Linked DNA regions of Homo sapiens: region 2 is linked to region 1. Evidence: fine-mapped expression QTL. A gene starts in region 1. The other region holds a variant in brackets. All regions are shown on one strand. Distances are between the middles of the regions. Region 1 holds the start of LY6H (lymphocyte antigen 6 family member H). Region 2 has its middle 15 kb from the start of ZNF696.

What was found. PIP is the estimated chance that this variant, and not a neighbour inherited with it, causes the effect.
Region 2: its variant is the best candidate, but not a certain one, in a credible set for the expression of LY6H in esophagus muscle (GTEx, PIP 0.89).

What each region holds. Positions count from the first base shown.
Region 1 is chr8:143,157,238-143,162,595 of GRCh38, reverse strand. It overlaps LY6H (lymphocyte antigen 6 family member H), which reads left to right and starts at 2,275. Exons shown (of 4, transcript NM_001135655.2): 1 at 2,275-2,398; 2 at 2,887-3,014; 3 at 3,674-3,793; 4 at 4,111-4,680. The coding sequence starts at 2,397. The coding sequence ends at 4,346. It overlaps LOC124902035 (a long non-coding RNA gene), which reads right to left and starts at 2,727. Exons shown (of 2, transcript XR_007061136.1): 1 at 2,610-2,727; 2 at 1-1,799.
Region 2 is chr8:143,303,634-143,308,991 of GRCh38, reverse strand. No RefSeq gene overlaps it. Among named protein-coding and RNA genes, the nearest start is that of ZNF696, 15 kb to the right of the region's middle. RefSeq lists enhancers at 685-1,185, 1,186-1,686. The variant C/T (reference allele first, on the strand shown) is at 2,552.

The DNA of each region.
Region 1 (5,358 bases):
TTCTTTCAGTTACCGTAATTCTTTCAAGGTTTCTGCTGACCTTTTCATTTCAATGAAAAGTTTTTCATTTCTAGAGGTTCTATTTTTTTCTGATAAGCATGGTGATTGGTTTCATAGTGCTTTGTTCCTTATTTTAATATATCTTAAGCATAACAAATAGGTTAATTTTATATCCTATATTTGATATTTTCCATTTAGAAAGTTTGTGGTGATTTAAATCTGTTGCTCGTCACTGTCAGCTGAGTCTCACTTGGAGGCTTGCTTTCTTTAGACATGTGCTGATTTTTCATTTTGAACTCATATTTGATTCAGTTAAATCTGTGGGAACCTCAGTCCCTAAGTTGGGGCTTGCTTTCTCCAGAGTATTCATCGTTGGTTTTGCTTTTGCAAGCAGGGATGCTACTGACCTGGGACCACCCTGGCTCCCCGGAGGGCTCTGTGTGGGTGCCAAGTGGAGGGTGCAGGAGAAAGCATCCCTCGGGGCAGCCCTCAATCAATGACTCTTGGGTGTCGCTGTGAAATACCTGTTCCCTCATCCCTTGGGTGAGTTCACCTGAGGCTCACAGTTTACACCACTTCCCAGAGTACCTCTCTGGGGTCAGGCTCCATTTCCCCACTGCGGGGGGTTGCTGAGTACCACATGCTTGCCAGCCTCCTTCCCCACCCTGGACCACTTCCCCACTCCCCAGGGCTGCTATCCCCACCTCCAACCAAAGGGCTTGCTCTGGAATCCCTGCCTCAGGCTCTGCTTCCGGGACCTCAGACCCCGTGGGGGTCCAGGTCTGCCCAGGACCACTGTGAGTTTCACATCTGCCTCCTGCTCAGTGGGCAGACTTTGGGAGTCCATTATTCTATTTACTTCTTTCTTTATGGACTCAGATTTCTTTTACTTTCTTGCGAGCTCTGTATGTTTTGAAAAGAATTGTGTTTGAACCTTGATCTAGCTCTTGCCCTCTGCACCTTATGAATCTCAACTCCTCATTCAGTTCTCGGCTAAAGTATCAGGTCCTGGGAGAAGCTCTCCCTGACCCTGAGGCAAAGCACGCTCCTGTGGTGGTCTCTTGTCCATCTCGTCCTTGCCTCCACCCCTCTGGAGCCACAATGGAGCGGAGGTGTGCAGTCCCTGTAGCCCAAGCTGCTTGGGTTCCCACTTCAGCTGGGTCACCTGTCACCTGCGTCACTGTGTGACCCCGAGCAGGGAGCGCCGCCTTTCCGTGTGAGTCTCCTCATCTGTGAGATGGAAATGATACTATCTGCACAGCAGGGCTGTGGTGAGACTATAAGGAGATAATAAATATGAAGTGTCTAGAACAGGTGGAATCCATAGTACATGCTCAATAAATGTTAGCTCTGTCACATCCTGCAAAGATATGCTGCAGTAGGCATCACCATTTGTCCAAGGGGAGAGTCAGGAGGGCAGAAACCAGGTCTCTCTCCTCATGCCCTTTCCCAGGGCTCAGGGCAGGGCTAGGGCAGCAGGGAGCATGCAGTAAACATTTTCAGGTCAAATGAAAGGGAGCAGGACCAAAGGCACGATGGCAGATCGGGGCTTCCCCAGTGCCCCGGGGAGGCGGATTTCAGGCACAGGGACACGTGCAAAGGCACAGCTTTTAGGGAGCTGGAGGGCAGGGCGGGAAGGCCAAGGAAGCCGAGAAACGGGTCCAAGGCTCGGATGCTCTGGCCAGGATTTGTACCTTTACCTCCGAGTGTGGGAGTATTTGGCGACAGAAGCCCCTGGGGCTGCGGCTTCTGGTGGGGGTCTTCATGGATGCTCAGGGGAGGAGAACGGCCTGGAGCCACTGGAAACGGGGAAACGGGGAAACGGGTATGAGGTTGGGGAGGGGCGGGGAGGAGGGGGAGGGCGGGGCCCCAGGGCGGGAGTCTGACCCCAGGGGTCTGCGAACCCGGACCTGCGCGTGGCGCCGCGCCGGGTACCTCCCCCTCTCTGCGTCTTTGTGCATTTTGCTTCCTTTCGCAGTAAACGTTCTTCCGAGAAATTCCAAGGGGATCTCAGCCAAGCAGAGGGGGAAGGGATCCTGCCCACGCCTGGGTAGGGGGCCGCGGAGGCTGGGGAGGAGCAGGGGGCGCCGCGAGGGAGGGAGCGGGAACCCGAGGGAGCGCGCGCGCCAGCAAGGGGGCGCGGAGGGCCCGGGCCAGCTACCTGCGTGGGGGCCGCGAGCCCCGGGCGCCCCCCGCCCCGCGCGTCTCCCAGCCGCCCCCGCCCCCCGCGCGGCCCCCGCCCCGGCTCCGCCCCGCCCCTCGCGCGGGGTCCGCGTCTGCGGCTGCGTTCCCCGAAAGACGAGGCTGCGCCCGGATTCCGGTCCGCAGGGAGACCGAAGGGCACAGCTCCCCGCGCCGCGCACGCCGCCCGAGCCCGGAGTGCGGACACCCCCGGGATGTGAGTGAGCCCCCCGACCCCGAGGCCCGCGCTCCACGCCCCATCCGCGGTGAGCGCCGAGGCGCGCGCGGAAGGCCAAGGGAGGGGACTCGGCCCGGGGTTCCCGGCCCCCCAGCCCAGGGGTGGGGGTGGGGACCTGGCACGCGCCCCTCCCCCCAGTGGCAGGTCCCACCCGCTCCCGCCCCTGCCGCTCATTCCTGTCCGGACGCACCTGCAGCTCCCCGGGGAGAAGAGGACGCCCCCCATCCGCTCCCCCACACAGGTGCCGGCGCGGGGCGGAGGCGTCTCGAGCTGTCACCTCGCCCCAGAGGCCAGACGTCTCCCGGCGGGGATGCTGTGACGGCGGACGCTCTGGAGAAGGGGCTGGGGGTGGGGCTCTGCGAGCTCCGGGCGGACCCCGGCCTTGGATTCCGGGGAGAAGGTTGCATCCTGAGGCTGGGAAAGGAGAGGGTCTTTGGGGTCTCCTGACCGATGCTTCTCCCCTCCAGGCTTGCGCCCCAGAGGACCCGCGCCCCAAGCCCCCGCGCCGCCCCCAGGCCCACCCGGAGCATGCTGCCTGCAGCCATGAAGGGCCTCGGCCTGGCGCTGCTGGCCGTCCTGCTGTGCTCGGCGCCCGGTGAGTAGGGGGCCCGCGGGCTGGGTCAGGTGCCTGGGAGAGCCCGAGGCGCCGCGGGAGAGCCGGGTGTGGGGCTGCCACCCTCTGACGGTTCCCACCGCACTTCGCATAGAGCCCACGCCCCCTCCGGGACCCCTGCGACCCCAGCCCGGCCCTCGGCCCCTCTGCCCCGGCACTGGGCTCTCTCCAGCGCTCTTCCTCCAGGGCCTGGAACTGGTGGGCGGCTGGCCCCGCACGGAAGCCCTTGGTCATCCGTCACCTCTGAGAGCCTCCCGGGCCTCCTTTCAAATCCAGTTTGGTCCTTCACAGCTTGGAACCCACGGACCTCTGGGGGGGATATGTGAGGCGGGGCGGGAGTGTGAGGGGGGCACTGTCGGTGTGGGGTCTGTATAGCCCGTGTGTGTGTTTGTGTGTGTGTGTGCACGCACGTGCATGGGGGCCAGGGAGGGGCCATAGGGGCTCCCCTCAAACTGCCAGGATGGGGCACAGTTGTCCCAGGGCCTCTGCTCCCCCTCCAGGGGTCATGGGGGCCTGCTCCCTCCCGTGGGGTCGGGCTCTCCCAGGAGTGCCTGCAGCAGGGGGATGGGTGGGGGGCGCAGGGGGCTGCCTGGTTTGGACCCCAGTGCCTCTGGTCACCCTCCTCCCCATGCCCTGCCCAGCTCATGGCCTGTGGTGCCAGGACTGCACCCTGACCACCAACTCCAGCCATTGCACCCCAAAGCAGTGCCAGCCGTCCGACACGGTGTGTGCCAGTGTCCGAATCACCGATCCCAGCAGCAGTAAGTTGGGACTTAGGGTGGTGGGGAATGTGCTAAAAGCCAGGCTCTTGAGAGAGGTCAGAGGTGTCCTCGGAGCCCCTCTGGCCTGGGACGAGAGTGAGAGCGTGGGGCGGCAGGCAGGATACTGTCCTGCTGTCCCCCCCTGGCTCCTTGGTGGCCCTTTTCATCTAGTTGAGGCCAGCGTGGGAGGGTGGAGGGACTCGGCCCTGCCTACTGGGGCCCCGAGCTGACCCGGAGGGGCCTGGGCTGGGTCCTCGGGATGAGGCAGAGAGGGCCCAGGAGGAGCCCCCGTCCCAGGCCACGCTTTCTCTTCCCAGGCAGGAAGGATCACTCGGTGAACAAGATGTGTGCCTCCTCCTGTGACTTCGTTAAGCGACACTTTTTCTCAGACTATCTGATGGGGTTTATTAACTCTGGGATCTTAAAGGTCGACGTGGACTGCTGCGAGAAGGATTTGTGCAATGGGGCGGCAGGGGCAGGGCACAGCCCCTGGGCCCTGGCCGGGGGGCTCCTGCTCAGCCTGGGGCCTGCCCTCCTCTGGGCTGGGCCCTGATGTCTCCTCCTTCCCACGGGGCTTCTGAGCTTGCTCCCCTGAGCCTGTGGCTGCCCTCTCCCCAGCCTGGCGTGGCTGGGGCTGGGGGCAGCCTTGGCCCAGCTCCGTGGCTGTGGCCTGTGGCTCTCACTCCTCCCCCGACGTGAAGCCTCCCTGTCTCTCCGCCAGCTCTGAGTCCCAGGCAGCTGGACATCTCCAGGAAACCAGGCCATCTGGGCAGGAGGCCTGGGGATGAGGGTGGGGGGGGACCCCCAGGTCCCGGAGGGGAAGTGAAGCAACAGCCCAGCTGGAAGGGCGTCTTCTGCGGAGAAATAAAGTCACTTTTGAGTCCTGAGACCCGGGTCTGAGCCTGGGTGTCGGGGGCGGGAAAGGGTTCCTGGCAGAGAGCTGGGAATGAGGTGCTGAGGGAGCGGAGGGGCTGGGGGCAGGGCGGGCGCTCAGCCAGGATCTTGGGCTCTTGGGCTCAGGGCACTGGGGTGCTGGGTGGTTGTGCTGGGGCTGCTTGGTCCTGGTGAGGTTTAGGAGCACTTGGGGTGATGGGGTGAGAGCTGAGATGAGCAAGATCACAGGGTGGGCTTGGGGGGAGGTACCGGAATCCTGTGAGCACACCACAGACACCAGACACGCCCACAAACAGTGGTGCCCACGCAGCCAGCATGTGCACACACACTCATGCCCAGACAAGCATACAAACGGTGCCCACGCAGCCAGCATGTGCACACACACCCGTGCCCGCCCTGCTCCTTCACACACACACACCCCAGGTGCCCCGCGCACACGTGCTGGGGCATGCACATAACTGGCACAAACTGGCGTGTCCCAGTGCACGTGCCCACACCCACACGTGCATGCCCATGTCTGTGCACACCCACCCTTGTACACTCAGCGTGCAGTGCACACGGTGCCCTCACAGACTCACAGATGAGACCACGCGTGCTGGCCTCCTCTCGCCCCCACCCCAGCTGTCTCTGCCCCTGGGGGCTGCTTCAGGCCGAGTGGAGTCCTCCTGTTC
Region 2 (5,358 bases), 150 kb before region 1:
GCACAGTGGCTCATACCTGTGATCTTGGCATGTTAGAGGCCTGAGGCTGGAGGATTGCTTGAGCAGACATTGAGGCTGCAATGAGCTGTGATTGCGCCCCTGCACTCCAGCCTGGGCAACAGAGCAAGACCCCATCTCAAAGAGAAAGAAAAGTCCCTGACGCCTGCCGTGTCCTTTGAAGCCTCCACCCCGAGCATGGAGTCTGCTGGGCTGTCACATCCAATCAGCGTCCCAGCCTGGACCCCCGGTTCCCGCTCGACAGGGGAGGAGAAACACCTTCGTGTGCTCTGAGGCTGAGGACTTTGGGTGAGGATTCCACATTTGCGCACGCGCCACCCTCTCAGCGGGGCCCGGACTCTTCACCAAGTTCTTTAGCGCCTGGAATTCAGCAAGGGCACAGTTGCTGCCTGGTCACTAAGCCCAGCGGCCCCCGTTCAGTTCTCATCACCTCCACACTCTCCATACGTAGCTCTTAGCTCTTACGATGGCCTTCTGCCTGAGCTTCCCAACCCTGTATCCTCTCAGAGCTGCCTGTCGGCTGCCCTCTGCCACGCGGGATCCTCTGCCGCCCTCTCTGCCACGCGGGACCCTCTGCCGCCCTCTTCTCTGCCACGCGGGACCCTCTGCCGCCCTCTTCTCTGCCACGCAGGACCCTCTGCTGCCCTCTTCTCTGCCACGCGGGACCCTCTGCCACCCTCTCTGCCACGCAGGACCCTCTGCCGCCCTCTTCTCTGCCACACGGGACCCTCTGCTGCCCTCCTCTGCCACGCGGGACCCTCTGCTGCCCTCTTCTCTGCTATGCGGGACCCTCTGCCGCCCTCTTCTCTGCCACGTGGGACCCTCTGCTGCCCTCTTCTCTGCCACGTGGGACCCTCTGCCGCCCTCTCTGCCACACGGGACCCTCTGCCGCCCTCTCCTCTGCCACGTGGGATCCTCTGCTGCCCTCTTCTCTGCCACGTGGGATCCTCTGCCATGCGGGACCCTCTGCCGCCCTCTCCTCTGCCGCCCTCTCCTCTGCCGCCCTCTTCTCTGCCACGCGGGACCCTCTGCCGCCCTCTCCTCTGCCACGCGGGAACCTCTGCCGCCCTCTCCTCTGCCACGCGGGACCCTCTGCCGCCCTCTCCTCTGCCACGCGGGACCCTCTGCCGCCCTCTCCTCTGCCACGCGGGACCCTCTGCCGCCCTCTCTGCCACGCAGGACCCTCTGCCGCCCTCTTCTCTGCCACGCGGGACCCTCTGCTGCCCTCTCCTCTGCCGCCCTCTTCTCTGCCGCGCGGGACCCTCTGCCGCCCTCTCCTCTGCCACGCGGGACCCTCTGCCGCCCTCTCCTCTGCCACGCGGGACCCTCTGCCACCCTCTCTGCCACGCAGGACCCTCTGCCGCCCTCTTCTCTGCCACACGGGACCCTCTGCTGCCCTCTCCTCTGCCACGCGGGACCCTCTGCTGCCCTCTCTGCCACGCGGGACCCTCTGCCGCCCTCTCCTCTGCCACGCGGGACCCTCTGCCGCCCTCTGCTATGCGGGACCCTCTGCTGCCCTCTCTTCTGCCACGCGGGACCCTCTGCCGCCCTCTCTGCCACGCAGGACCCTCTGCTGCCCTCTTCTCTGCCACCCTCTTCTCTGCCACGTGGGACCCTCTGCTGCCCTTTCCTCTGCTACGCAGGGCCCTCTGCCGCCCTCTCTGCCACACGGGACCCTCTGCCGCCCTCTCCTCTGCCACGTGGGATCCTCTGCTGCCCTCTTCTCTGCCACGTGGGATCCTCTGCCACGCGGGACCCTCTGCCGCCCTCTTCTCTGCCACGTGGGACCCTCTGCTGCCCTCTGCCACACGGGACCCTCTGCCGCCCTCTCCTCTGCTACGTGGGATCCTCTGCTGCCCTCTCCTCTGCCACGTGGGATCCTCTGCCATCTGCTCCGCGCTTTGCTTTCGGGGCTGCCTCTGTGGCTGTCTCCCTCACACCGGGGCTCCCGCCAACCCCATGAGGCAGCCCCTGTGTAAGGCTCCTGGTCAGCCAAGAGGACCCCAGCGCCCTGGAGGCTGCACCCCCATCCCTCCTGCTGTGGGGCCCTTGGTGCTCCAGGCCCGAGTCTCTCACACCGCGGCTCACCCGCTGCCCCAAGGGGCTCCGGCAGCAGGTCCAGCTCCTCCCGGGGCCTGTGACAGAACAGTTCCAGCAGGGGGCTCTCACGTCCCCACCTGCTCCCAGAGAGGTGCTTCTGTGCCCAGACATGGAACAGCTCCACAGAAAATGAGGGCACTGGCCGAGCAGGCCCAGACTCCAGAAGGGAAACCACTGAGGGTGCAGGCCCGACCCACATCACCTCGGAGTCTGTCCTCGCGGAGACGGTGATGGGCCTTTCCCTCTCTGTACAGATGAGGACACACAAGGAGCTGACTTCATGCCTGGACATTAAGCCCAGGAATTCCCAGCCTAGAGCTGGCTCTCTAGGTTGCGGGGTCTGGTCCCAGTCCAGAAACATCTCCCAAGCCACAGCTCAGGACACAGCAGGGTGGGGGTCGAGGGGGTGAGTGGGAGCTCCAGGGAGAGGCCC[C/T]TAAGGCTGTTCCCCGTCATCAGAACTTGCAGGCCAGTGGCCTCTAAAGGTACTCATTAGAGGGGTGTGGACCTCACTTGCCCAAAACCCCGGGACTGCTCAGCGCATCCTTCTGAGACGTGAGGCTGTGACCACCTGCTGCCTCAGCGTCCCCTTCTCACCCCGAACAACCTGCCTTTAACCCAACTCTCCAGACTGACACGATCCCTGTAGACTGTCAGAGCCTCGTTTGGATAGTCACAGACTACCTGGATAAAAGATAAAACATGGCCGGGCGCGGTGGCTCACGCCTGTAATTCCAGCACTTTGGGAGGCCGAGGCGAGCGGATCATCTGAGGTCAGGAGTTCAAGACCAGCCTGGCCAACATGGTGAATCCCTGTCTTTACTCAAAATACAAAAATTAGCCAGGCATGGTGGCAGGCACCTGTAGTCCCAGCTGCTCAGGAGGCTGAGGCAAGAGAATCACTTGAACCTGGGAGGCGGAGGTTGCAGTGAGCTGAGATTATGGCATTATCCTCCAGCCTGGGCGACGAGTGAAACTCCATCTCAGGAAAAAAAAAAAAAAAAAGATAAAACATGCAGAGTAGAAACCCCAGGTGGACAGATACCTGTCCCACCCAGAGAAAAGCTGGGTGGTGCCATCGACGGGCAAAAGTAGTGGAAAAGCCAGCTGCGTGTGCTGGTGCGAGATGCGTTTCCATGATGGAGGATGCCGCGCACTCAGCCTCTCCTGTTATCCTGTGGCCTGCGAGCCCTCTCTTAAGTGCACCAAGAGCAGCAAGGGACTTAGAGCAACTTCATTCACTGCTGCCCAGGCGGAAAAGGGCGCCCAGGCCCTGCAGCTGGAACTGGGTAACAGGCCGGGTGGAGACTCACACTGGATCCCACTCAGCCATGATCACAAGAACAGAGCGACTGCTGCTCGGGTCTCACGGGCGACTGACAGCAACCGGGAGCCCTGACGCCTTCCCGACACCCCCTGTTCCATCCACGAACAGGCACGCCCGCCGTTGTTTGAGTTTTTACATGTTGACACCCCCTGCTCCATCCACGAACAGGCACCCACCGTTGTTTGAGTTTTTACATGTTGACACCCCCTGTTCCATCCATGAATGGGCAGACCCGCCATCGTTTGAGTTTTTACATGTTTGTGAGTAATGTTCCATCTCAACAGCCTGGGCAACATAATGAGACCCTGTCTCTCCCAAAACAAGCAAACAAAAACCCCCAAAATTAGCTGGGCATGGTGGTGCGCGCCTGTAGTCTCAAGCTACCCGTGGGGCTGAGGTTGGAGGATGAGCCCGGGAGGTTGAGGCTGCAGTGAGCTGTGATTGTACCACGGCCCTCCAGCATGGGTGACCCTGGCTTAGGAAAATTTGTAATAATAACATCCCATCTCTCAGTTTACATGTAGAAATCTTACACATCTTTCCTAAATATCATGTAAGTCAGTCCCAGGTGTGTTATGTCCTCTGAGTCTATTCTAAATGGTTTATTTTGGATTTTTTTTTCCTTTTCTGTCAGATGCTTTAGGTACTGATTTTCTCCTCTCCGCCTGGCTGGAACATCCGTCTGCATCGGACGGGCTTCCTTCTGCACCTGTGACCTCACAAGGGCTCTCCTTGGGGAGGCAGGACCAGAGCAGCCCTGAGTAACCGGGCACAGCCGAGGAACAGGCCCCAGGGAGGCCAGGACCCGGGTCCTCACGCCTGCGGCCACAGAAGCACCGTGTCCCTGCAGCTGTGAGCCACCAGGCGTCTGGGTGGGTGGTTACTCAGCAAGTGCCAGTAGAGAAACTGGGTCCCAGAGTTGGGGTTGCTGTGGACTGGATACTTGTCCCTCACCTCCAGTTCACATGTTAAAGTCCTCACCCCCAGCAAGACAGTGTTGGAGGTGGGGCCTTTGGGAGGGGAGCAGGTTTAGAGAAGATCCTGGGGGACCCTCACGATGAGATGAGTGCCCTCATGGGAAGAGACACCGGAGCCTCCTCTCCAGGAGCACACACGGGACGGTCACATGAGCAAGAGGCTGCTGTCCGTAAGCTGGGGGTGGTCCCTCAACAGGAACTGGGTCTGTGGCACCTGGAGGCTGGACTCCCAGCCTGCAGAGCTGGGAGAAAGAAATGTCTGCTGTGAAGCCAGTCGGTCTGTGGAATTTTGACACAGCAACCTCGTCTAAGACAGGTGCCGGCAGAGCCACCTCGTCTAAGACAGGTGTTGGCAGAGCCACCTCGTCTAAGACAGCTGTTGGCAGAAGCAACACCTAAGACGCAGTGCACTGACTGCGAGTGCAGTCTGGGGCTGGAGAACAGAAACACGGGGAGGAGACTATTAGCAGAAGAAACCATGATTAGGTAGTAGTGAAAAATTTGGGTGAAAAAAATTGCCTTTGGGCGGGTGCTGTGGCCTGTGCCTCTAATCCCAGCACTTTGGGAGGCCAAGGTGGGTGGATCACCTGAGGTCAAGAGTTCAAGACCAGCCTGGCCAACATGGCAAAACCCTGTCTCTACTAAAACTACAAAAATTAGCCGGGCGTGGTGGCGGGCACCTGTAATCCCAGCTGCTCAGGAGGCTGAGACAGGAGAATCAATTGAACCCGGGAGGCAGAGGCTGCAGTAAGCCGAGATCGCACCACTGCACTCCAGCCTGAGAAACAGAACCAGGCTCTGTCTCAAAAAAAAAAAAAAAAAAAAAATTGCCTTCAGTAACTTGGAAATTAGAAAATGGACCCAGCTAAGCAGAGCTCCAGACAGAGTGGCAAAAATGTCAGCGGAACGCTCCTCGTGGCACTGGTGAGGCCTGCGAGC